7 linked regions of the Homo sapiens genome follow. The protein of the gene in region 1 interacts with the protein of each later gene in a pairwise test. Each region holds a gene or a part of one and is shown on either strand. Other genes may lie near its edges. The genes, in order: RNPS1, ABI2, ZNF286A, CLK3, PSTPIP1, ZSCAN30 and STX11.

Region 1 (3,500 bases):
AAGCCAAGGCCCTTATACAAAGGCTGGGATATAAGAAAAGCCCACCAAAAGTTTAGCTTAGGCCTTTCCTGGGCCTTAAAACATAAAATAACGAAGAATACGTCAGGACCCATTTAGGATTAAGCCAGTTTTATTGGGAAGAAAACTCCCCAAACTGCTGTGATTTAGCAGAAGGCAAAGCAAGGGTAATTACCCCAGCACTCACAGCCATTTAAATTAAGTCAATTTACTGAGGCTCCAGAGGAAGGTCTTCAAGACTCAATCCTTAGTTAATAGATTAAAAGTCAGTAACTTATGTCTTTACATAAATGTACACATATGTATAGACATATAGCTTAAAAAATATATAAGCTCTGAAAAACTTTGTAATTTTAAGTTGGTCTGGCAATAATTTCCAGGCCTTTTCCCTGCAACTGGTTGCAGAAATAAAAACTCCACCTACTCAGTTAATGTGCATCTTGTTATTGGGCCATGAGAAATAGCAGCCCAAACCTCAGTTTGGTCCAGGAACTGCACCCCAGCCTGGGCAACAAGTGTGAAACTCTGTCTCAAACAAACAAAAAGAAGTGCAGCCCAGTTGGAAATCAGTTTGAAAGCCCCTCGCGGCGGCGGGTCTCTGAGAGGTCAGGGTTATGTGGCAGGGTCACCCACCTCCATCCATGTGCTTCAGCGCCTTCTCGGCTTCATCTGGATTCTCAAACTCTACGTACGCATAGCCTTTGGACAGATGGGGATGCATCCTTTCCACGGGCATGTCAATCATTTTAATTTTCCCATAGGTGGAAAATATCTCCATGATGTGATCCTAGAGGGAAAGAAGGGTCACGCCAACGCCCAGCTACCAGTCAGTCACGTCAGACGCAGAGAGCTCAGCACATCATGACTAAAACCTCGGCAGGGTAAAACATTCCATCTGATGAGTACCAGTGTTGTTCTGGGATAAATCTCCCAGACACATGTATTAATGGTCCACCAAGAGGAACGAATCAATGCTGTACTCAAACCACATGCCACCACCCCAGTCCTCCAAAAGGCTACATTCTAAGTTCATCTGCAGGCACAGGCCTGCTTGTCCACACCCCACTGCCCACAGGAGAGATCCATGATCCTCACCTTTGTCACATTCCGGGTGAGTCTCCCAATGTGCACTTTGGTGGGCTTAGGAGATGGGCTCCGCCTTTTCCTCTCCTTTTCATCTCTTTTAGGTGGTTTGGATCTGATTGAGAAAACAAAACACCAGAAACAATTTCTGTCAAGTCAAAATGTACTAGACGCCTTTCGAGTAAGCTCTTATCTGCTTGTGTGACAGTTTTCATAAGGAAGACTTTCCTGCTAGTTCACATACATTATTCCTGTCTCAGAAATCCTATTAACACAGAAAGACTCCTTTTGGGTCCCTTTTATAACCTCGATGGTAAATCTGTAGCCCCGAGCTTGTAAACTTTAGCTCCCAGGCGCAGGGCACTCACTTGGAGCGGGAGCGCCTCCTGTTGTCGTGTCTGCGCCGAGAAGGACTTGGAGAGCCAGAAGAGCTGCTAGAGCTGGAGCTGCGGGAGGTGCTGGAGCTTCCTGAGCGGCTGGATGCTGAGGAAGAGCTGGAGCCACTGCTTGAGCCAGTGCTGGTGCTGGAGCCTGAGCTGGAAGTCGAGCTGGACCGAGACCTGAGGGCAAGATGAGGGGTCACAACCACCACACACCAAGTCTCACAGTACAGACGCCTCCTCCAATTCTGTTGTGCTCCCCCCAGGAGAAACCTGCTGTTCGGGTGCCTCCAGGCCTCACTGCTTTCAGCAGTGGGGAAAACATCACCCCCCAATCCCCCAGCAAGTCAGAGCCCTAGGTGTCACATTGTGTGTGGGACAGGACAGAGGTGATGGGCTGCCTTCTACCCATACAGAAGCCTTTCCTGCTGGGAGGCAAAGGACTCTGGCAAAAGTCACAACTGCCAACTCAGGCTGGGAAGGCAGCTGCTGGCTGATGCTGACCCAGGCTAGGTTGATTTTTTCTTTTGAGACAGGGTCTGCCACCCAAGCTGGAGTGCAGTGGCATGATCTCCGCACACTGCAGCTTCAACCCCCTGGAATCAAGCCATCCTCCTGACTCAGCCTCCCGAGTAGCTGGGAGTACAGGCGTGTACCACCACACCCGGCTAGTTTTGTTTATTTTCCTCAAACTCCTGGGCTCAAGCCATCCTCTTGCCTCAGCCCTCCCAAGTAGCTGGGACTACAGATGCATGCCACCACGCTCAGCTAATTTTACAAATTACTCTTTTTTTTTTTTTTTTGTAGAGACGAGCTCTTGTTTTGTTGCCCATGCTGGTCTTGAACTCCAGGCCCCAAGCAATCCTCCTGCCTCGGCCTCCCAAAGTGCTGGGATTATAGGCATGAGCCACCACTGCACCTAGCCAGTCTGCCATAAATTAGGGTCTCTACTAACAATCAGAGGATGTGTTTTCTTTGTAAATAATCAAGAAAACCGAGCCATCTGTGGGGAGTGGGGGTGTAGCTGTGGCACAGGTCCTCTCCAGGCTCCAGGCCAGCCCGCCCCACCTGGTACTGCTGCTACCACTGGAAGCGCTGCGCCTCTTTCGGGTTTTGTCCCGGCCGCGATCCTTCTCACTCGACTCCTTGGTGGCCCCTTTATCTTTTGAGCGATCCTTGGACTTCTCATCTGAGCGGTCTTTGCGTTTGGTAGGTGAAGGAGCCCTGGATGGTGAGGAAGAGTGTGAGATTGCGTGCTCCTCTGACCAAACCCAAACAGCACAACCCAAAACGGGGGATCAGCATCAGCAGGGCCACAGAGACCCGAGGTGACCACAGAGCAAAGTGGTCTGTGGCTCAGAACACTCACTGTAGAATGCAGAACATTCTCAACTTTCCCCTTTCTGCGGGTCCCTAGCAGTAAGCACCCCCAAGTAGCACTAGAAAAATCTTACAGAAGGATTACCTAGTGCTGGACTTTTTATTATTTTCTTTGACTCCTAGCAAGCTCTTCTTTTTCACTCCTGATAAATCCATTCTCCCCTTCTGAGGTGTTCAAAGCAGCAATGGCGGCCTCACTTATCTGAACTCTCACTTCTAACTTGATTCTGAGAAACGATCCCTAATCGATTGCAATTTACGCCAAAGAGCAGCCTAATAACAAGATAAAAGGGTTTAAAGAGTGAACGAATTGGCAAGGCAACAAGTCTACTTTGCAGTCAAAAGCTGAGCACACAAAAAGGCAGCAAGGGAGCACGGTAAGCAATAAGTGTCCACACAGTCAGGAACACATAGGGACAGTCCCCATGTGCTCCTGGAGGCGTCTCTACCCCGCAGAGGAGGCACAGGTACAACTGTCGCCCCAGCGTATCTTTTTCTTAAAAAATGGAGATGGTGGAGACCATCACTGTTATTTTACAGGCTGAACAATTCAGTTTTCACCCACAAGTTTGATGAGCCCCTGCAGTCCTTTCAAAATGCCACAGCACCACATTCACATGCAGAACAGAGAAAAACCTA
Region 2 (3,500 bases), on another chromosome or scaffold:
TATACCTACCTTTACTCCATGTCCAATATCATCTAGAATTGTATAGTCAATAGGTTTTCTAATATAACGAACTGGTCGTTCAAGGTTGGCTGGAGCAATAATCTTATGTGTCCTTGAAGTGTTTTTATTGGTAGTCAAAATACCAATTTCTCTTCTTGCAACTTTCTCTTTATGAATATCAACTGTCTGCAAAATATAATGTAAAAAACAACACAAAAATGTATAGTTCTAATATCCACAAAAATCAAAATATATATGCCTAGAGATTTAATATTGCTACTCATATTCTAAACTATGCTTGCTAAATTTTTATTCTTCTGGACTACTGATTTTCTCCATTTTTAGGTTAAAGCAAGGGCTGGTAAACCATGGCCCACAGGCCAAATCTGGCCCATCATCTGATTTTTACAGCCCACAAGCTAAGAGTGGTGTTTACATTTTTTAATGTTTGGAGAAAAGAACAACCAAAAAAAACCTTCACGTGAAAATTATATAAAATTCAAATTTGCTTTTCCATAAGTAAAGTTTTATTGGAATACAGCCATGCCGCTCACTTGCTTATCTGTCTAGGCTTTACACTGTAATGGCAGAGATGAGCCACAACAGAGATGGTATGGCCCACAAAAACTGAAGTATATATTAGCTGGCTCCTTTACAGAAAAGGTTTGCCAACCCCTGGGTTAAAGCATGCTAATTTTTCCCTCTCCATTAAGATTTAGACTAATATAGTGATTAAGAAAGCCCCCGAAATTAATCTAGTTACATTTCTAATGACCTATTAGTATAATTTCTATTCATGTTTAAACATCTTTTTATTTAAAAAGAAAGAGGGCTGAAATATAATGTTAAAAATAAAGCCAGGCACAGTGGCTCAGGCCCGTAATCCAAGCACTTTGGGAGGCCAAGGTGGGCAGATTGCTTGATCCCAGGAGTTCATGACCAGCCTGGGCAACATGGCGAAACCCCGTCTCTACAAAAAGTAGCTGGGTATGACAGCACATGCCTGTAATCCCAGCTAACTGAGAGGCTGAAATAAGAGAACTGCTTGAGTCCAGGAGGTCAAAGCTGCAGTGAGCCATGAATGCACCACTGCACTCTAGCCTGGGTGACAGAGCAAGACCCTGTGTCAAAAAACAAAAAAGCCATTTTTTGACCCCAAAAGACCAAGTTGCTTGGGCAAAGCTGCTTATATTTTATCATGACAAAATGCCTGTAAAATATTTCATTAATTTATTTATATTTATTAAATGCTCACATAAGACATACGAGTAAGAATGTATTGTAATTACAATCTTCTATTTGCTAACAGAGGGTGAATTTCTCCACATACACAGGTAATTAGTACACTAAAGCAAAATTTTTTAAACTGCAAGCTGCAATTTAGTGGTATGTAAGCAGCAATTATTTCAAATCAAATAGAACAGAAACATCAGACTGCATGTACACATAGTAAGGTAAAATACTGTTTCTTGAAAAGTCTGTTTATTATATATATAAATATATACATGAATTATGTGCTGAATACAACGTAAAAAAAATTTTTTCCTGTGTGTCGCAGTCAAAAGAGTTTGAAAAATCACTTCACTAAAATGGTTCACATCTCTTACCACCAATTCCTGGCTCAAGCAGCAATCAACAGACACATTTTTTGCTAACTCCTCCCCAGTCCCACTTCAATGTCCTACTTCAATTTCCCCTTTCTAAAAGAACCTGGTAGTAACAGTGAAAAGATAATCATCATGACATTATAAAATACTGCTTTAAGAAATCTGAACACTGATCATTTATCCTTCTAAACTGCCTCAAGTATGAGGTAAGCCTGAAACAAATTCAAAGCCTCTTATTTCTCTACAACCAAGAGACCTTAAAAACAACAGGATCTATATGTTCCAGAGCTAACGAATGTATAAATGGAACATCAAATAAAAAACTAACCATGGTAGTAATCTTACAATTTTAAGTATTCAAGAAAAAAACAATCTCAGCCAGGCATGGTGGCTCACGCCTATAATCCCAGCACTTTGGGAGGCCAAGGTGGGCGGATCACAAAGTCCGGAGATCGAGACCATCCTGGCTAACACGGTGAAACCCCGTCTCTACTAAAAATACAAAAATTAGCCGGGCATGGTGGCGGGTGCCTGTAGTCCCAGCTACTTGGGGGGCTGAGGCAGGAGAATGGCGTGAACCCAGGAGGCAGAGCTTGCAATGAGCCGAGATTGTGCCACTGCACTCCAGCCTGGGCAACAGAGCGAGACTCCATCTTAAAAAAAAAAAAGAAAAGAAAAGAAAAAGAAAAAGAAAAAAAATAATCTCTAAACTTTTCTACGCATGTTAGGCTAATTATGAGAATAGCTTTCCTCTTCAACTGCTTGGGAAAACTGTAACAGAAAAGTTAAGCTTGCATATTAGTGATGATATTGGAATTCACTTAATTTTTAACTTTAGAGAAATGGAAATTAATCACATTTGGATTAAATTTTATTTTTATGAGACAGTATCTCACTCTGTCGCCCAGGCTGGAGTGGACTGGCCCGATCATGGCTCACTGCATCCTCGACCTCTCAGGCTGAAATGATTCTCCCGCCTGAGCTTCCTAAGGAGCTGGGACTACAGGCGTGTTCCACCATGCTGGCCTAATTTCTCTACTGTCTGTAGAGTTGGGGTTTTTCCATGTTGCCCAGGCAGGTCTTGAACTCCTAAGCTCAAGTGATCCACCCACCTTGGCCTCCCAAAGTGCTGGGATTACAGGAGTAAGCCAATGTACTGGCCTTGAATAAAGTTTAGTGAGTCATTCTAAATCATTAAAAGTATGGGCTAGAAATACCATTTCATACCATCAAGTATGCTTCAAAAAATAAAATATGACACTTTTTTTATAAAATGGGTCTTCGTCAGATCAATAAAAGGTTCATCAGATAACACAATCCTCAAGACATTGTTTTTATTCTCCTCAGTTTTTAGAAATGTACTTAACTTATTCAGAAATGAAACTATAAGAGTGTAAACCTGAGCAGCCATAACAGAATTACAAGCTTATAGCTTCTATTTCACATCTGCATACTATAAATATACATTTTTTTGCAACAGGTTCTCACTCTGTCACAGAGGCTGGAGTGCAATGGGACAATCATAGCATACTGTAGTCTTGAACTCCTAGGCTCAAGCATCCTCTTACCTCAGCCTCCTGAGTAGCTAGGACTACAGGCATGTACCACCATGCCCAGCTAATTTTATTTTTTGTAGAGATGGGATGTCACTGTGTTGCCCAGGATGGTCTTGAACTCCTGACCTCAAACAATGCTCCTGCCTCAGTCTCCCAAAGTGCTGGGATTATAGGCATGAGCCACTATGCCTGGCACATACTAGAAATATTAATAAATCTCCAGAGAATGAACAGGGAGAAGTAATCTTCCACTTATTATTTACACTAACACACAGTAATATTTTATAACAAGCACATATTTCTTGTTTGAAAAATTGAGACTTTAAAAAAGCATTAA
Region 3 (2,268 bases), on another chromosome or scaffold:
TCATGAGAAACTACCTGCGTGGTCCAGTCACCTTGCACCAGGCCCCACCTCCCACATTGGGGATTACAATTAAACATGAGATTTGGGTGGGGATACAGATCTAAACTGTATCATTACTCAAAAAAAAAAAAAAAAAGAAAGAAAAGAAAACACAGGAAAAGGAACTCACCTCTTTTATCATCTTAGTATTTAGTACTAATGGTTTAGAGCAGGAATTGACAAACTGTGGCCTGGACTCATGGACCAACTCTGGCCCACCACCTGTTTCTCAGAAGAAAATTTTATTGGAACTCAGCCACACTTACTCATTTACATGTTGTCCTTGACTGCCTTTGTGTCCAGTGTCAGAACTGAGTAGCTGCAGCGGAGGTTGTGCCTCTGGGCTTTAATATCACAAACAGAGCAGCTTATAAGCAACAGAAACTTACTTCTCACAGTTTTGGAGGCTGGGAAGTCCAAGATCAAGGTGTCAACATATTTAGGGTCTAGGGAAGGTCTGCTTCTTGGTTAATAGAAAGCACCTTTCACTGTGTCTTCACATGGTAGAAGGGGAGAGCTCTGGTATCTTCAGCCCCTTATAAGGGCACTAATCCCATTCATGAGAGCTCCACCCTCACGACCTAATCACCTCCAAAAGGCCCCATTTCGTAATACCGTCAGTTAAGTTTCATTATATGACTTTGATGGGGATATAGCCCATAGTAGGTTGTATGTCCCTGAAAGCCTAAAATATTTACTGTTTGGCTCTTTACAGAAAATATTTTCTTGGCCCCTGTTCCAGAGCATTCATCAAGTCAGATAAAGGGTTTAAACCAGTCAGAGAAACTAGGTGGAATGGAAAAGTACTGAGAGATAATTGGGGACAGAAAAATAAAAGAGATGGGAAATGCTGCATCAAAATACTCCTACCTCTAGGATGTTACTATATATTGTTAGGAGAATTCAAGTTATTGAAACTTGCCAAATTCTTGAGTGAAGAGGAATTCATTTGAGAGCCAAAATTTGACTAAGGAAAGAAGACCAACATGGGCTTTCCAAAGTTGAGTTTGAATTCTGCCATCCCCACTAAGCAGTCATGTGACCTTGGAAAAACTCCCTACTCTGAGTCTCAGTTTCTTTATCTGTATTAGGTTTCAACAAAGGGAATAAATCATTGGCTTCTCATGAGGTTGTCATAAGGATTAAATAAGACAATGCATATAAAAGAACTGGCAGACAATAAATATAGAGTCCCCCACTCCTGCTTGGTGCTCTCTTTCTCTCTCCTTCTCTACATAGAGAAGTGCCAGAGCATCCGTCAGTAGAAGTTACTTAAGGTTGGCTGTGTCTTCCACATCTTTTGTTTACCCATGAAGAACTGTGACCATCTTGTTCTGTGTCTTGTCATAAAGATGGGACGTGACTTCTTTCTGCTCTTGCTTCCATCTGGTGCTGTTTTCTGCACAGCCTCCTTGAGACCTTCCAGAACCTTCTTTTTTCCTACTTCATATCACTTAACCAGTAGCTATCTGGGATGGTTCCAGAGGCTGAAGTTTGCAGTTGAATAACATTTTAAATAGTGTTAAGCGACTTGGGATCTCTGGCCCTTTGCGTTTCAGTATTTGTCCTTTTTATGCCTGATGTTTAACCTGCCACATGTTTGTACTGCAACATGAATCTTGGAAATTTTAATGTTATGCATTTCAAATGTTTTTGGTTATCTGTAAACTAAATGTGCCCTTATTGGCTCACTTGTCAATAAAGATGTTTGTATATGTATTGTCAGAAACTTTTGTAAATTGCTTTTAAATTCTTCCTTTTTTAAAGCATATTTTAAGATGTAATGAAGGACCAACCAAAAAATATCTCCATATCATTCAGGATACCAATCCCATTTCTAGCTGGTCATCTGGCTTCACAACTTCTGGAGAGATGGGATGGGAGATACCGTCAGCAACCCAAGTATCTGCAAGAAGGTTAAGGAGTAGAGGAAGATAGTTTCTAACAAGTAGTACTGAGTCCCCAGGCCAGGTATAGGCACTACTCAGTAGGGCTAATTGGGGTGAAAGGGAGGGAATAACTTCGTATAAAAAGCACAGTTAAAATTAGGCAAAATGGGCCAGGTGCGGTGGTTCAAGCCTGTAATCCCAGCACTTTGGGAGGCTGAGGGAGGCAGATCACCTGAGGTCAGGAGCTCGAGACCAGCCTGACCAACATGGAGAAACCCCATCTCTACTAAAAATACAAAATTAGCCAGGCATGGTGACACATGGCTGTAATCCCAGCTAC
Region 4 (2,433 bases), on another chromosome or scaffold:
CACGGTCACATGTGCATCGCCTTTGAGCTCCTGGGCAAGAACACCTTTGAGTTCCTGAAGGAGAATAACTTCCAGCCTTACCCCCTACCACATGTCCGGCACATGGCCTACCAGCTCTGCCACGCCCTTAGATGTAAGTGTCCACCCTCAAAAGAAGCATGGGCAGCCACATGCCTGCAGCCAAGTCATCTGGTTACTTGTTGTCCCCATTCATTCCAGCACGTTACTAACCATTCTCCTGGGCCTGAGGGACACCAGATCCCCTTTGGCGGAAAGGCCTGTCTTTGGGTGGGAATCTCAGTGTGAGGATGGAAAGGCTAGGGCTCCCTCCAGGGACCTCCTGGACCAGCCTCTCTACCCCCAGGCACTCAGGAAGAAAACAGAAACGAACTGCTCTGGAATTGGCCTAACCACCAACCCTGCCTCCCTGCTTCATGCATGGGATAAAAAGGTAGAAGCCTGACCTGACAGATAGCACCACAGGTCCTGCCCACATGGAGACCCTCGGTCTAACCCTGACTTGTCATCTCCCTGCCAGCCTGGAAAAGCATTATTTGGCAGTGCCAGGGCTCAGCGCAGTAGGATTTGCAATGGTTGCAGCAGTACAGAAAGGCTCCTTGGTGAAGTTGGTAGGCGTTGAGCTAGAATCGCTCAAGGTCACCCCGCATCGCTCCCCTACCCTGAGCACTGCTACTGTGATAGGCTGCAGGCCACTGGGGTGGGAAGCCCCACATGGATGAGAAGACAGGTGTCTTCCTCCTCCCACAGGATCTGCAAGATGGGACAGGGACAAGGATTCCAAGCAAGGGGAACAGCTTGGTGAGGCCTGGAGCCTGTTAACGGGCTGAGAATTGGCTCCAGTGGAGTAGACTGCCACTGGGGAGTGGTGGGCCACATAGTTGTGAGGGTCTTGAGTGCCAGATGGGATCCTTGAGCTGAAAAGTGACTACTAGCAAGAAGCCACTGTCAGAAGGGGCTGGAGGGGAAAGGCTTGCCTGCTTATGACTAGCAATGAGAGGCGGGGCTGTCTTCCTGGGTATGCGACCTGTGCACTCAGTCGCACAGGACCCTGTGCTTGATTTAATGTCCTTTTGCCACCACCTTAATATTCTTAGTAACTTGAACAGGGGACCTGCATTTTCATTTTGCAAAGGGCCCTGCAAATTATGTAGCTGGTGCAGGGAAGAGGGAACCACCTCGAGGCTGTTGCTGTAGCTCTGCTGAGAGACAGGTGAGGAGGCCTGGTCTCTGCAGAGGAGAGGTGGAGGGAGGTTTTTCGAATGGCAAATTTCTTTCCTACCCCCCTGCTAAAGTATCAGAACCCTCCAAGGCCTCAAGTACAGAGAACCCTTGAGAGGGAGGCCAGCACAGAGGCAGGCTGTAGTCCAGCTCCCTGCTGAGGTGGGGGTGTGAGGACCTCTGGCAGTTGCTGGCATTGGAAGAGGGGTCTGGCCTAGAGCTGGCAGGAGAGCCAGCTTCTCAGTGCCTACTTCCCCTTCTTTCCCTGCTACCTTAGTTCTGCATGAGAATCAGCTGACCCATACAGACTTGAAACCAGAGAACATCCTGTTTGTGAATTCTGAGTTTGAAACCCTCTACAATGAGCACAAGGTATTGGTGGGGGTAAGGGTGAGGCCCTGTTTCAGGGGTGGGTTACCCGCTGGTGCAGACTCCTGACCTGGCAGGCCTGCCTTGCCTTTCAGAGCTGTGAGGAGAAGTCAGTGAAGAACACCAGCATCCGAGTGGCTGACTTTGGCAGTGCCACATTTGACCATGAGCACCACACCACCATTGTGGCCACCCGTCACTATCGCCCGCCTGAGGTGATCCTTGGTGAGTGACTGTATGGCCTGTGACCTTGTCATACTGGACTGTTGTTGGGAGGGTATGAGCAGAGGCAGTGGCATGCCTGTCATTCTCTGCCACCCAGGGCAGGCAGAGTTTCTCAGACCAAGGGGCCAGTGTCATGAGACACAGGTGACTGACCTGGCTTTATCTGTCAGCCTTACTGAGAGAGGGCCTCGTACTGGGATTTGGGCAAGAGTCCTGCCAGCCGGTGTGGTGGCTGCCTTGTGACTTCCAGGCTGGAAGCATAAGGCCGGATCTCACAGCCTCTCCCCATCTTGGCTTGCAGAGCTGGGCTGGGCACAGCCCTGTGACGTCTGGAGCATTGGCTGCATTCTCTTTGAGTACTACCGGGGCTTCACACTCTTCCAGGTACAGCCACCCTGCATTGGTCCCCTACCCTGAGTACTGCTACTGTGATAGGCTGCAGGCCACTGGGGTGGGAAGCCCCACATGGATGAGAAGACAGGTGTCTTCCTCCTCCCACTAATCATCATGTGAGATTCAGACCCTTTAAGGATGTAGATGCTAAAGGGAAGGCAGAGGTCAGGGTAGCTGGAACACTCAGAGGAGTCTTATGCTAGGCCA
Region 5 (3,500 bases), on another chromosome or scaffold:
CATCCATCCATCCATCCATCCATCCATCCATCCACCCACCCACCCACCCACCCATTCACCCATCCACCTGTCCATCCATCCATCCGTCCACCCATCTGTCCATCCATCCATCCACCCACTCATCCATCTACCTACCCATCCACTCATCCACCCATCCACCCACCCATCTACCCATCCATGCATCCACCCACTCACCCATCCCTCCATTTGTCCACCTGTCCACCAGTCCACCCATCCACCCACCCACCTATCCACCCATCCATCCATCCACCCACCCACCCATCTACCCATCCACCCATCCATCCACCCACCCATCTACCCATCCACCCATCCATCCACCCACCCATCTACCCATCCACCCATCCATCCACCCACCCATCCATCCATCCTTCCATCCATCCATTCATCCATCCATCCATCCATCAAGTTGTACCTGAGTGTTTGGTCCTTTGCCTGCCTCACTTTGCCAACCAGTAATGGTGGAGAGGAGTCCCACTGTGGGGTACTGACTGTAGGGCGGTGGAAGGAGCCTGGTTGCTACCCATTGACTTAGCATCCCTGTGCCTCTGTTTCCGTATCTATACAATGGGGATGATAATTCCTGTCTCAGAGGACTGTTGTAAGAAGTAGAGGGGACCAGTGTGACTGGCTTCTTTAAAGGTGCTGGGTAATGGGTCATTGAATCTGCAAGCAAATGATCTGGTCCCCTCCATGGGGCACCTCAGGAAGCAGCCGTCATAAGGCCTTGTCCTCTTGAAGGCCTCACTGAGGCGCTTCTCCAGCCCATCACTCAGCATGTCTGTGAGCAGAGCTGTGTGTAGGCACCAGGTGCCGGGATCCAGTGGGGAACCTGAAAGACCCCCCTCTGCCTCCATGGAGCTCAGCCCTTCCTACCTCAGGTTTTCAGTCCACAGAAGACAAGCAACAGGAAACTAGGTGCTAGCAAACCCACAGTGTCAGCCACACTGGCTGCAGATGTCACTGCTGGTGTGAGGGAGGAGAGCACCCCAGCACCATGCAGCTCCGTGCAGCTACCTTCCAAAGCTGCTGCTACGTCTTGCTTCCCCACCTGTGGCCCATGCTGGAGCTTTCCCAGTCATCTTCAGGTGTAACCCAATCCAGTCCAAGCTAGTATCACAATTTCACTCTCATTCAATTTAAAGCTCCCCAGTTCCCCGACTTTCACTGGAAGCCTCTGATGGGGAAAAGAGAACAGGGTCAGTTTCCTCCCTTGCCATGGGGTACCCACACTGCACTGCCAGCTGCCTCTGGGGTCTCCATGGGGGGGTGGTGGGGCACAGGCCGTGACTGTAAAGGGGAGAAACATCTCATTGCCCTGGTACTGTTGTAACTGGTGACAGTGAATGCACACAGGTCAGCCCTTTCTCTCCCTGGCACCTGGGCAGGTTTTTTGGTGACCCTGCCCCCCTGGAGTCCCTGACCACTCCGTTCCCTACAGCCTTCCACTTCCAACCTCTCCCGTTGCACCCAATAGTCTGCTCCACTCAGCTTCTCCTAGGGGCTCCTCTCTCCCTGTCAGGCTATTCTCATGGACAGAATTACCAGGCAGCTCTTCCTGGCTACCTTCCACGGCCCCCACTTGGTTCCCAGGGAAGATTTTGGTGCCAGTTCTTGGACATAGCAGGTAGGAACTCGGACCAAAACCCAGGTGTCCCCCTCCAAGGTTGGAGGCTTAGCTGTCCTCTGATAGATGCTGTATTCTGGAGTGCCAGGCAAGGGAGCATTTGAAAAAGGCTCTGCTCCCCTTTAAATGGAACCTCTGGTGGAGGAAGGTGTGTAGGGCGAGAGGGGAGGTGATGAGGTGACTCATTTCTTCCAGCCTGGCCCCAGCTGAGGGAAGGTGTTTCTGGTCGGGGAGGTGGCAGGCAGGCGGGGAGGGCTCGGGGAGCTGCTGCTTGCTGAACTGCCCCTGGGTGACAGGCCCTGAGTGTGGGGCTTTGCAGAGAGGCAAAGTAATGGGAAGTTAACAGCCAAGATCGTGGCTTGGGATATCTGGGTTATATCCCAGCTGCACCCGGCAGGTCCCTGGGCAGATTGGGTAACCTCTCTGGGTTACCTTTTCCTCATCCATAAAATGGTAGTCATCACCCCTAGCCCAGTATCTGCCTTGTGGTGAGCCCTGATCTTGAGTCCACTGTTCTCACCTATGCGCACGATTTCACTTGCTTCTCGGGTCACCTCTAGGCGGTGAGAACTATTAGGCCCATTTTCACAGGGAAGGAAACAGGCTGAGAAGGGCCAGGGTCACGGGAGGTGTGAACCCACATCTAGTCAGTCAGACCCTTCCCAGCCTCTCAAACAGGCCCGAGTACCCTCTCTGACCTGTGGCCTACACTAACAGGACTGTGCCCTAGAGGGGCGGGCTGTCAGGGCCCGAAAGGGGGTTAGCCTCCTGCCCCCACTTTCCCAATGAGGAAACCAGGTCCTGAGAAGTAAAGTGGCTTGCTTCAGGCCCTGGTGTCTGTGGTCTCGCCCCTGCAGCCACCAAGAGTTATGGGCGTGAAAAGGGGGAAGTGGCGGTAGTTACAGAGGGTGCTTCTCCACTCAAGCCGTGGGGGTGTGGAGGGCCCTGGCCGGCTCACAGGCCTGGGCCGTGGCTCACACCAACACCCACCAGAGAATGAAGCCAGTAGGCTGTCCCTGACAGAACAGGGCACCCAGGCCTTGGCCACACTGCCTCAAGGCAGAGGCAGGAATATGTTTCCTCCCAAGAGCCTCCTCCTGGAGTTCTGGGATGCCGCCTGAGGCCGATGGCCACACACCATGGACGGCGAGGGCTGGGTCCCACATCTGGCTCAAGTGAGCCTCCCAGAGGAAGAGACTGTGCCCGCTCCCCACCTGGCACCCCTAATCCAGGACGGGTTATCCTGGGTGCCACATGGCTGGGCCGTGACCACTGGCTGTTCATGGGTTACCCAGAGCCGCACTCCTCTGACCCAGCCTGGGCCCCAGGCTAGCCTCTGTGAATCCACAGTAACTGAATTATAGCCCAAAATACAGCTTTGATTTGAGGTGGAGATAATTTGAGTAATCATTTTCAAGAGTTATTTTTTCAAATCATGTTTGGATGTTCCAAAATAGAAAATGGTTCCTGGGCTGTCTACTAAATGGCTGATGTAGGTATATGGCTTTGGGGACAGGTTGACCTGCATTCAGATCCCAAACTCTGCCCTTTACCCATTGAGTGGCTTTGGGCAGTCTCTTTCCCTGTTTGGGCCTCCTGTCCCCATCTTCGCCTCCCGAGATCTGTGTTGTGGTCAGGAAGATAACGCTATGATACCCTTGGTGCAGTGTGTGCCAGGTAGACTTGATAAATAGAGATTTCACAAAGGGCAGGGCCACAGGCAGCATTCGGATGACAGAGGTTGGACAGGATGAGGGGAGATGGAGGTAAGAGGAGTGGGGGACAACTAGGGTAGGTCCCCTGGGGGTGATGCTGATGCTGGGTCTTGGGTGGCAGACCCACATGACTGATTAAG
Region 6 (3,500 bases), on another chromosome or scaffold:
ACAGAGTGAGACTATCTCAACAACAACAAGAAAAGAAGGTGGCCATCATCTGCAAGCCAAGGAGAGAGAAGAAACCAAACCTGCTGACACATTGATCTTGGACTTCTAGTCTCTAGAATTGTGAGAAAAGAGATTTCTGTTGTTTACCACCCATTCTGTGGTATTTTGTTGTGGAAACCCTAGTAAACATACTATATTAAAATTCTTCCTTATGTCCATATGAAATACTCCCAACTTTAATTTATTCATAATCCACTTTCTTTAGTTTACAGAGTCCTCATAAAACACAATCTATACTTGAATGCAGTGAGTACACTGCACTTTGACCTTTTTTTTTTTTTTTTTTTTTTTTTTTTTTTTGAGATGGAGTCTGGCTCTGTCGCCCAAGCTAGAGTGCAGTGGTGTGATCTTGGCTCACTACAACCTCCAACTCCTGGGTTCAAGTGATTCTCCTGCCTCAGCCTCCCGAGTAGCTGGGACTACAGGCACCCGCCACCACGCCTGGCTAATTTTTGTATTTTTAGTAGAGATGGGGTTTCACCATATTGGCCAGGCTGTTCTCAAACTCCTGACCTTGTTATCCACCCGCCTCGGCCTCCCAAAGTGCTGGAATTACAGGCATGAGCCACCGTGCCCAGCCTCCTGACCTTGTTTTAACTAAGCCTCTCACTCCCTCTGATCCCATCTGTGTTCTGTCTGTTTGGATATCTTGCCACTTTTCTCTGGACATGCTTCAGTTTCTCCACATTCATCTGAAGTTTGGGGATCAAGACAAAATAAAATACTCTAATGAGAATCTGATTGATTTAAAATATATTCACCCTCCAACTGTTATCTGTTACATTTTTTAACTTTTTATTTTCTTATTACTTCATAGTGGCAGTATGTTGTTGACTCAGTCACCATATCAGTAATAGTGACTCTATCTCTCCAATGTCCTTGGACTTAGCAAAATTTACTCGTTCTCCATTTATGCGTGGTCCCATGGCCATGAATGGCCTTGACTGGGTTCCTGTTAAGTCTCCTTATGCTAGTCTCTTTTCAGTCTTGAAAGTCTTAGCCCTGCCTCTGAAGAATTAATGTGGATCCTTTCACAGCTTTCACCTAGGTCATGAGGTTTAAATTGTTGGAGAGGCCCACTGTGATATGATTGTAAGAGTCACCATGCCATTTTTACAACCTTGAGTTATAAGTTTCTTGTAGGTGCTTCACTAGCCTCATGATATGCCTTGCCAGAAGTAGCGCCTGAGATGGAGATTTGGGTGCAGGTGATTTATTGACGATGTGTTCTTCAGGAAAAATCTGTAATGGAGAGAGAGAAGCAGGATTAGGAAGGGAAAAGAGCAAGCAATGATGTGGTCTCAGTTACAGTCTAGGCTTGGTCTAATCCTTGGAGCATTTCATGGGCCGCTGAAGCATAATTGCACTGCAGAGTTGTCTCTTCTTGACGCAGAGATGGGGCAATGAAGGTGGAAGTTACTTCCTGGGCCAAGTGGCTCTCATCAGCCTGGGTAATTCTCCACAGAAGGAGGCATCTCTGTATAGTTAGGAGCTGTCTTAATCGGTTAGGACTGCTATAACAAAATACCATCAACTGAGTGGCTTGTAAACAACACGGATTTACTTCTCACAGTTCTGGAGGCTGAGAAGTTCAAGGTGCTAGCAGATTTTGTATTTGGTAAGGTCCCACTTTCTCATGGATGGCACCTTTTCACTGTGTCCTCACGTGGTGGAAGGGGCAAATGAGCACCATAGGGCCTATTTTATAAGATCACTAAGCCCTCATGACCTAGTCACCTTCCAAAGGTCCGCACTTCCTAATACCATCACCTTGGGGGTTAGGACTTCAACATATGAATTTTGGGGAGACACAGACATTCACATCATTGGAGGAGCCAACATTCACAGTGGCTGAGGGAAGGAGGCATCATATTGGTAAAGGGGAACTGGGTGGGCAGTGGAGCATCACTGACATAGCATTAAGGCTAAAAGCATACTCGTCAATATGCAATTGAAGGCCACATCCCTAGTTAAAAGGATTTTAAACTAAACAGGATGGAATTGCTCACTGAACTGCTGAGCTGGCAGAACTCACTGAGGAGCCACCCCAGAGAACAAGTAAGAAAAGCAGGAGGTGTGTTAAAGAGAAAAGCTAGCTGGGTGTGGTGGCTCGTGCCTGTAGTTCCATCACTTTGGGAGGCTGAGGCAGGAGGATTGCTTGAGACCAGGAGTTCAAGACCAGTCTGGGCAACATGGCAAGACCCCGTGTCTACAAAAAAAATTTTTTAATTAACTGGATGCAATGATGCGCACCTGTACTCTTAGTTACTGGGGAGACTGAGGTGGGAGGATCCCTTGAGTCCAGGATTTCAAGGCTGCAGTGGCTGATAATTGTACCACTGAACTCCAGCCTGAGTGACAGAGCAAGACTCTGTTTCAAAAACAAACAAACAACAACAACAACAACAAAAACAGAAGAGCTCTTCTAACAGAGATACCTGTGCCTTATTTCTCCTCCAAAGAGCCTCTTATAAATCTGTACCCCACCCTCCAGCCTCCAGACTTGAGCCTGATTACAAATTAGTTTTCATTCTTGGGAGATAGTAATTGGGTTCTCTCTATGCAAGTATTTCTGAATAATCAAGTGACCATTTCTTATTGTAATCTTTTTTTTTTTCTTTTTGAGACAGTCTTGTTCTGTCATGCAGTGGTGTGATCTTGGTTCACTGCAACCTCCACGTCCCTGGTTCAAGTGATTCTCGTGCCTCATCCTCCCGAGTAGCTGGTATTACAGGCGTGCACCACCATGCCTGGCTAATTTTTTATACTTTTAGTAGAGATGGGGTTTTGCCATGTTGGCCAAGTTGGTTTTGAACTCCCCTGGCCTCAAGCGATCTGCCTGCCTCAGCCTCCAAAAGTGCTGGGATTACAGGTGTGAGCCACCGTGCCCAGTCTCTACTTGTAATCTCTATTTGTCTTTTCTAAGAATTACTCTAGTTAGCTATTTATTCCAACTTTTTAAATATAATAATAAATGTATAGTTGAACAAATAAAAATCTTGATGTCTTCCTGATGTATACATCTGAGGACAAAATTTTTCTCTAGTCTCATAATTTGACTTCATATAGTTACAGAATTTGAAGACGTATTTAAATCCCATAAGTTACATTGCTTTTCTAATTTTCATTGCCCTTAATTTTGTCCCTACACAATTATATTGCCACTTTATACCCTATAATTGATGCTCTTAATAATTTGACCTATTTATTACTTTCAGAAAATTTCTCATTAGGTTGTTGGGTCTCTGACTTTAACCTATTTGGTACTTTTAATTTTTATGCCTCTATTGTATGCAAGTATATTTTTCATAAATGTTTTCTTTTTGAATGAAACAATGAATAATTTAAATTTCTATCTAAAATCCAAGGACAATATGAATTTTAGAGGTGATGTCATCTGTGTTTAATTTCTGGTAAGGAATGGGGAAAACGGGAAGCCA
Region 7 (3,500 bases), on another chromosome or scaffold:
AATGCAGAGGCCTGCTACATGATGCTGTCAGGACTTGACTGAAAGGCGCAAGTTCAGTGTCTCAGGTCAAGTTGCCAGGAAACAGACCCTGAGACTCTGAGATTTCCATACAGGAGGTTTTTATTGGGAAGTGCTCTGGGCACAATACACAGTAGGAGAGAGGGAAACGGGATTGCACAGGGGGAGAGACTGAACTGTGGGGCATGCACAACAGCGGCCTCAACAGGGAGGAGCTTGGAAGCTGGGATTGTTGTTCAGAATTGTTCTGCCTCCTGAGGCAAGAGGCTCAGCATTTGTACCTACATCAACTAATCATTGGATGCAGGCAGCAGCTCCCTTCAGTCCAGGGCAATTTCTGGAACTGGGAGCCTTCAGCAGCCAACCTTCCTAGTACCTGGGGGACTGAGGATCTTGGTCCAGAAGGGGATCTGGATACCACATCATTTACTACATTTGTAGCCAAGAGAGCATTCTCCTCTGCAACAGCCTTGTTTGTGTCTGATGGCCCAGACCATCACCTTGCAGAGTGGAGCCCAGAAAGTTGTCATTTTTTTCCAAGGCCCTTAAGGATTTTAGAATAGTTGACCAGAGAGCAAGAAGACAAAGTAGTCTTAATCCTAAGAAGATTAGGAGCAGAAGAGCCAGGGAGAGTAGGCCGTGGTGAGGGCAGTAGTGGTGTTTAACAAAGAAGGCTAAACTCTGGCACCCAGAGTGGCTAAACTCAGCCACCCAAACAGCTGTGGCTATCCAGACCCAGAACAAAAGCATAACACACACCAGTCCTTGCTGTAATGCTAGGCTTTAACATTGTTAAATGTTGAACAATTTTGTGATATTAGGGTTCCCCCCGCTCTCTCTCTCGCTCTCTCTTTCAAGCCCTTGAAAGTCCTCAAACCAGTCCAGTGTGTAGTCTGTAGATTATAACCTTCAGAATTACCAAAGATATTTCAGTACAAAAAAAAAACAGGGGAAAAACAAAAAAAAAAGAAAAGAGAAATAAAAGTCCAGGGCCCCATTCTAGATCCACTGGAATAGAATCCAGGGGTGGAACCCATGAATTGACATTTTCAACACATTTTCCCCAGAAGATTTTGATACATGCTATAGTTTGAGAACCTTCACCCTAAACTCTTATGCCTTTCGTGGTGACCAACTCTATTGAGATTTTTTCAGATTATCCAGAAGTCATGGGAACCGTGGGACAGCAGAGGAGCACCGGAGCCTTAGTCCCAGCAGGCCTGGTATAGTGAGAGTCATCCCTTGCTTTTCATTTAAATTCTTGATGTGGCCAACAGACAGCACAGCCCAAATTCCTTTGCTGGCTTCTGACCAAGATTGCAAGAGGGAGAGTGGTGTCCCTGGCTTGGCCTTATACTATCTTAGATAGCAGAGTGAGAGATGCCAAATTTTTTGAATAGTTGCAGATGGGGGATGGGAATCAGTGAACTTAGAGGAATCAGTAAACTTTCTAGGAGAATAAGAAGGTTTCAGGATATCTTATGCCAGAGGAAGCTTTGAGGTGCTTTTTTTTAAACTTTAATAATTGTCTAATAAGATCAGAGATAACTTACAGGATAATGTTAAGCATTCATAAATGTAGGATGGATTTCTAGGAGAATAAGAAGGTTTTAGGATATCTTATGCCAGAGGAAGCTTTGAGGTGCTTTCTTAAAACTTTAATAATTGTCTAATGAGATCAGAGATAACTTACAGGAGAATGTTAAGCATTCATAAATGTAGGATGGTATATTATCTGATTCACTGACATTGGCAATGATTTTTTCTTCAAAGGGAAAAGCACTTTTAAGCCTACCAATTTTTACTCCTGAAACACCAAATTGCTGTGTTTCTTACACTTTCCAGGCTTCATGCCTTTGCTGAAGTTGTCTGTGCCTGGGTCCCTTTCCCTTCTCCCTACCAAGCTAACTCCTTTTAAACCTTTTAGGATCAGCTCAGACACCACCTTCCCTGCCCTGTGGCCAGACTGACTTCTCAAAGTATTCCCATAGATCCCTCTATTATGGCATTTATTATCATTATTCTCTCTAACAGCCTGTAAGAGCAAGAACAGTCTTTTTCATTTTTGTGTATGAGAGACCTAGCCTCATCAAAAATGAGTGAAAAAAATAACGATTCTGGTGAGCGTATTTATTCAACAACTATTTATCGAGGCTTTCCTATATGCCGGGTGCTCTGGAGTAAATGGTGCAGACACAACAGGTACAGCTCCTGACCCTATGAAGCTTATGGGCAAGCAGAGAAGATAAGTAACAATTGAATATGTTATCAAACAACTACCAATAAAATATGGTGAGTACCAGAAAAAGCGAAGTGAAATTATAGAGCTGGAAACCCAGCCTAGTCTAAGGTCAGAGGAAGTGTCTCATTTTCCTGAAATATAAGTTATATCAAAATAGAAGTTACGGATTTGGCTTTGGTTACAAGAGACTACTTTTTAACAAAGGAAGATCTTTTGGTTGAGCTAGTTCAAAATTGACTCTGTGTGTGTGTGTGTGTGTGTCCGTCCAGTATGTGGAAAAAGACAGTACAGGAAAATGACGCCTTCATTTAATGAGGTAAAATAGGTAACAAGGAACGGAGAGGGAAGTTTCTGTGTGTCTCATTCAATGCACCATTACTAGAAGTTACTTTGTTAATATTTTAATATGTAATATACAGTGGAAGAAAATAAATGTAAAGCTCTGAAAATCATGAACTTACATCACAGCCTTTTAAAAATTAATCTCAAGGATCTGATTACTACGGCCTAGGAGGGTGCTTGACAGATTTGCTTTTGGGTCTTGTTGGAGACAGTGGGTGAAGTGCATTGCCCCAGAAGTCCATGCCCACTGAGGTTTCTCATCTTTCCAGGTCACTTTTGATGCCCTGGGTGAAGAGGCCACAACCCCAGTGTTGCAATTTGCAACCTCCACCCAGCTTGGTGGCTCATGCTGGGTCCTTTTTCTCCTTTTCTGGCCAGTTCTTGTTTTTTAAAAAAATATTATGATTTTTGAGAGACTCTGTCGCCCAGGCTGGAATGAAATGGCACAATCTCTGCTCACAGTAACCTCCGCCTCCCGGGTTCAAGTGATTCTCCTGCCTCAGCTTCCTAAGTAGCTAGGACTACAGGTGTGCACCACCACACCCAGCTAATTTTTGTATTTTTTTAGTAGAGACGGGGTTTCACTATATTTGGCCAGGCTGGTCTCGAACTCCTGACCTCAGGTGAACCGCCTGCCTCAGCCTACCAAAGTGCTGGGATTACAGGAGTGAGCCACTGTGCCTGGCCTTTTTAAAAATTATTTTTGTACCTCCTTATTTCTCCCCATAAATTGTAAGCTTAGGGTAAGGTTTGAGACTTCCTGATTTTTAACTTTTGAAGCTTTGCAGCTCTTCTGCTGCAATTTATTTACATTTATTATATTCAATAGATAAAGGACCTTAAGTTTAATATATAAGTTAACAGGCAAATCTTGGGTTGAAAAAGTACCAGATTCGTT

What was found.
Region 2: the proteins of RNPS1 (region 1) and ABI2 interact in binary tests that used the Homo sapiens proteins (3 or more experiments, as listed by UniProt).
Region 3: the proteins of RNPS1 (region 1) and ZNF286A interact in binary tests that used the Homo sapiens proteins (3 or more experiments, as listed by UniProt).
Region 4: the proteins of RNPS1 (region 1) and CLK3 interact in binary tests that used the Homo sapiens proteins (3 or more experiments, as listed by UniProt).
Region 5: the proteins of RNPS1 (region 1) and PSTPIP1 interact in binary tests that used the Homo sapiens proteins (3 or more experiments, as listed by UniProt).
Region 6: the proteins of RNPS1 (region 1) and ZSCAN30 interact in binary tests that used the Homo sapiens proteins (3 or more experiments, as listed by UniProt).
Region 7: the proteins of RNPS1 (region 1) and STX11 interact in binary tests that used the Homo sapiens proteins (3 or more experiments, as listed by UniProt).

Annotation. Positions count from the first base shown.
Region 1 is NC_000016.10:2,261,627-2,265,126, forward strand, and holds part of RNPS1 (RNA-binding protein with serine-rich domain 1), read right to left. Parts: intron 3,135-3,500; 5' UTR 3,018-3,134; coding exon 2,947-3,017; intron 2,706-2,946; coding exon 2,550-2,705; intron 1,662-2,549; coding exon 1,470-1,661; intron 1,217-1,469; coding exon 1,114-1,216; intron 806-1,113; coding exon 652-805; intron 1-651. UniProt on the Homo sapiens protein: Part of pre- and post-splicing multiprotein mRNP complexes. Auxiliary component of the splicing-dependent multiprotein exon junction complex (EJC) deposited at splice junction on mRNAs.
Region 2 is NC_000002.12:203,376,894-203,380,393, reverse strand, and holds part of ABI2 (abl interactor 2), read right to left. Parts: intron 187-3,500; coding exon 10-186; intron 1-9. UniProt on the Homo sapiens protein: Regulator of actin cytoskeleton dynamics underlying cell motility and adhesion. Functions as a component of the WAVE complex, which activates actin nucleating machinery Arp2/3 to drive lamellipodia formation.
Region 3 is NC_000017.11:15,719,020-15,721,287, forward strand, and holds the end of ZNF286A (zinc finger protein 286A), read left to right. Parts: 3' UTR 1-1,768; downstream 1,769-2,268. UniProt on the Homo sapiens protein: May be involved in transcriptional regulation.
Region 4 is NC_000015.10:74,625,836-74,628,268, forward strand, and holds part of CLK3 (dual specificity protein kinase CLK3), read left to right. Parts: coding exon 1-133; intron 134-1,516; coding exon 1,517-1,611; intron 1,612-1,703; coding exon 1,704-1,833; intron 1,834-2,134; coding exon 2,135-2,217; intron 2,218-2,433. UniProt on the Homo sapiens protein: Dual specificity kinase acting on both serine/threonine and tyrosine-containing substrates. Phosphorylates serine- and arginine-rich (SR) proteins of the spliceosomal complex.
Region 5 is NC_000015.10:77,012,126-77,015,625, forward strand, and holds part of PSTPIP1 (proline-serine-threonine phosphatase-interacting protein 1), read left to right. Parts: intron 1-3,500. UniProt on the Homo sapiens protein: Involved in regulation of the actin cytoskeleton. May regulate WAS actin-bundling activity. Bridges the interaction between ABL1 and PTPN18 leading to ABL1 dephosphorylation.
Region 6 is NC_000018.10:35,255,730-35,259,229, reverse strand, and holds part of ZSCAN30 (zinc finger and SCAN domain-containing protein 30), read left to right. Parts: exon of another isoform or gene 1-1,291; coding exon of another isoform or gene 1,292-1,302; intron 1,303-3,500. UniProt on the Homo sapiens protein: May be involved in transcriptional regulation.
Region 7 is NC_000006.12:144,157,017-144,160,516, forward strand, and holds part of STX11 (syntaxin-11), read left to right. Parts: intron 1-3,500. UniProt on the Homo sapiens protein: SNARE that acts to regulate protein transport between late endosomes and the trans-Golgi network.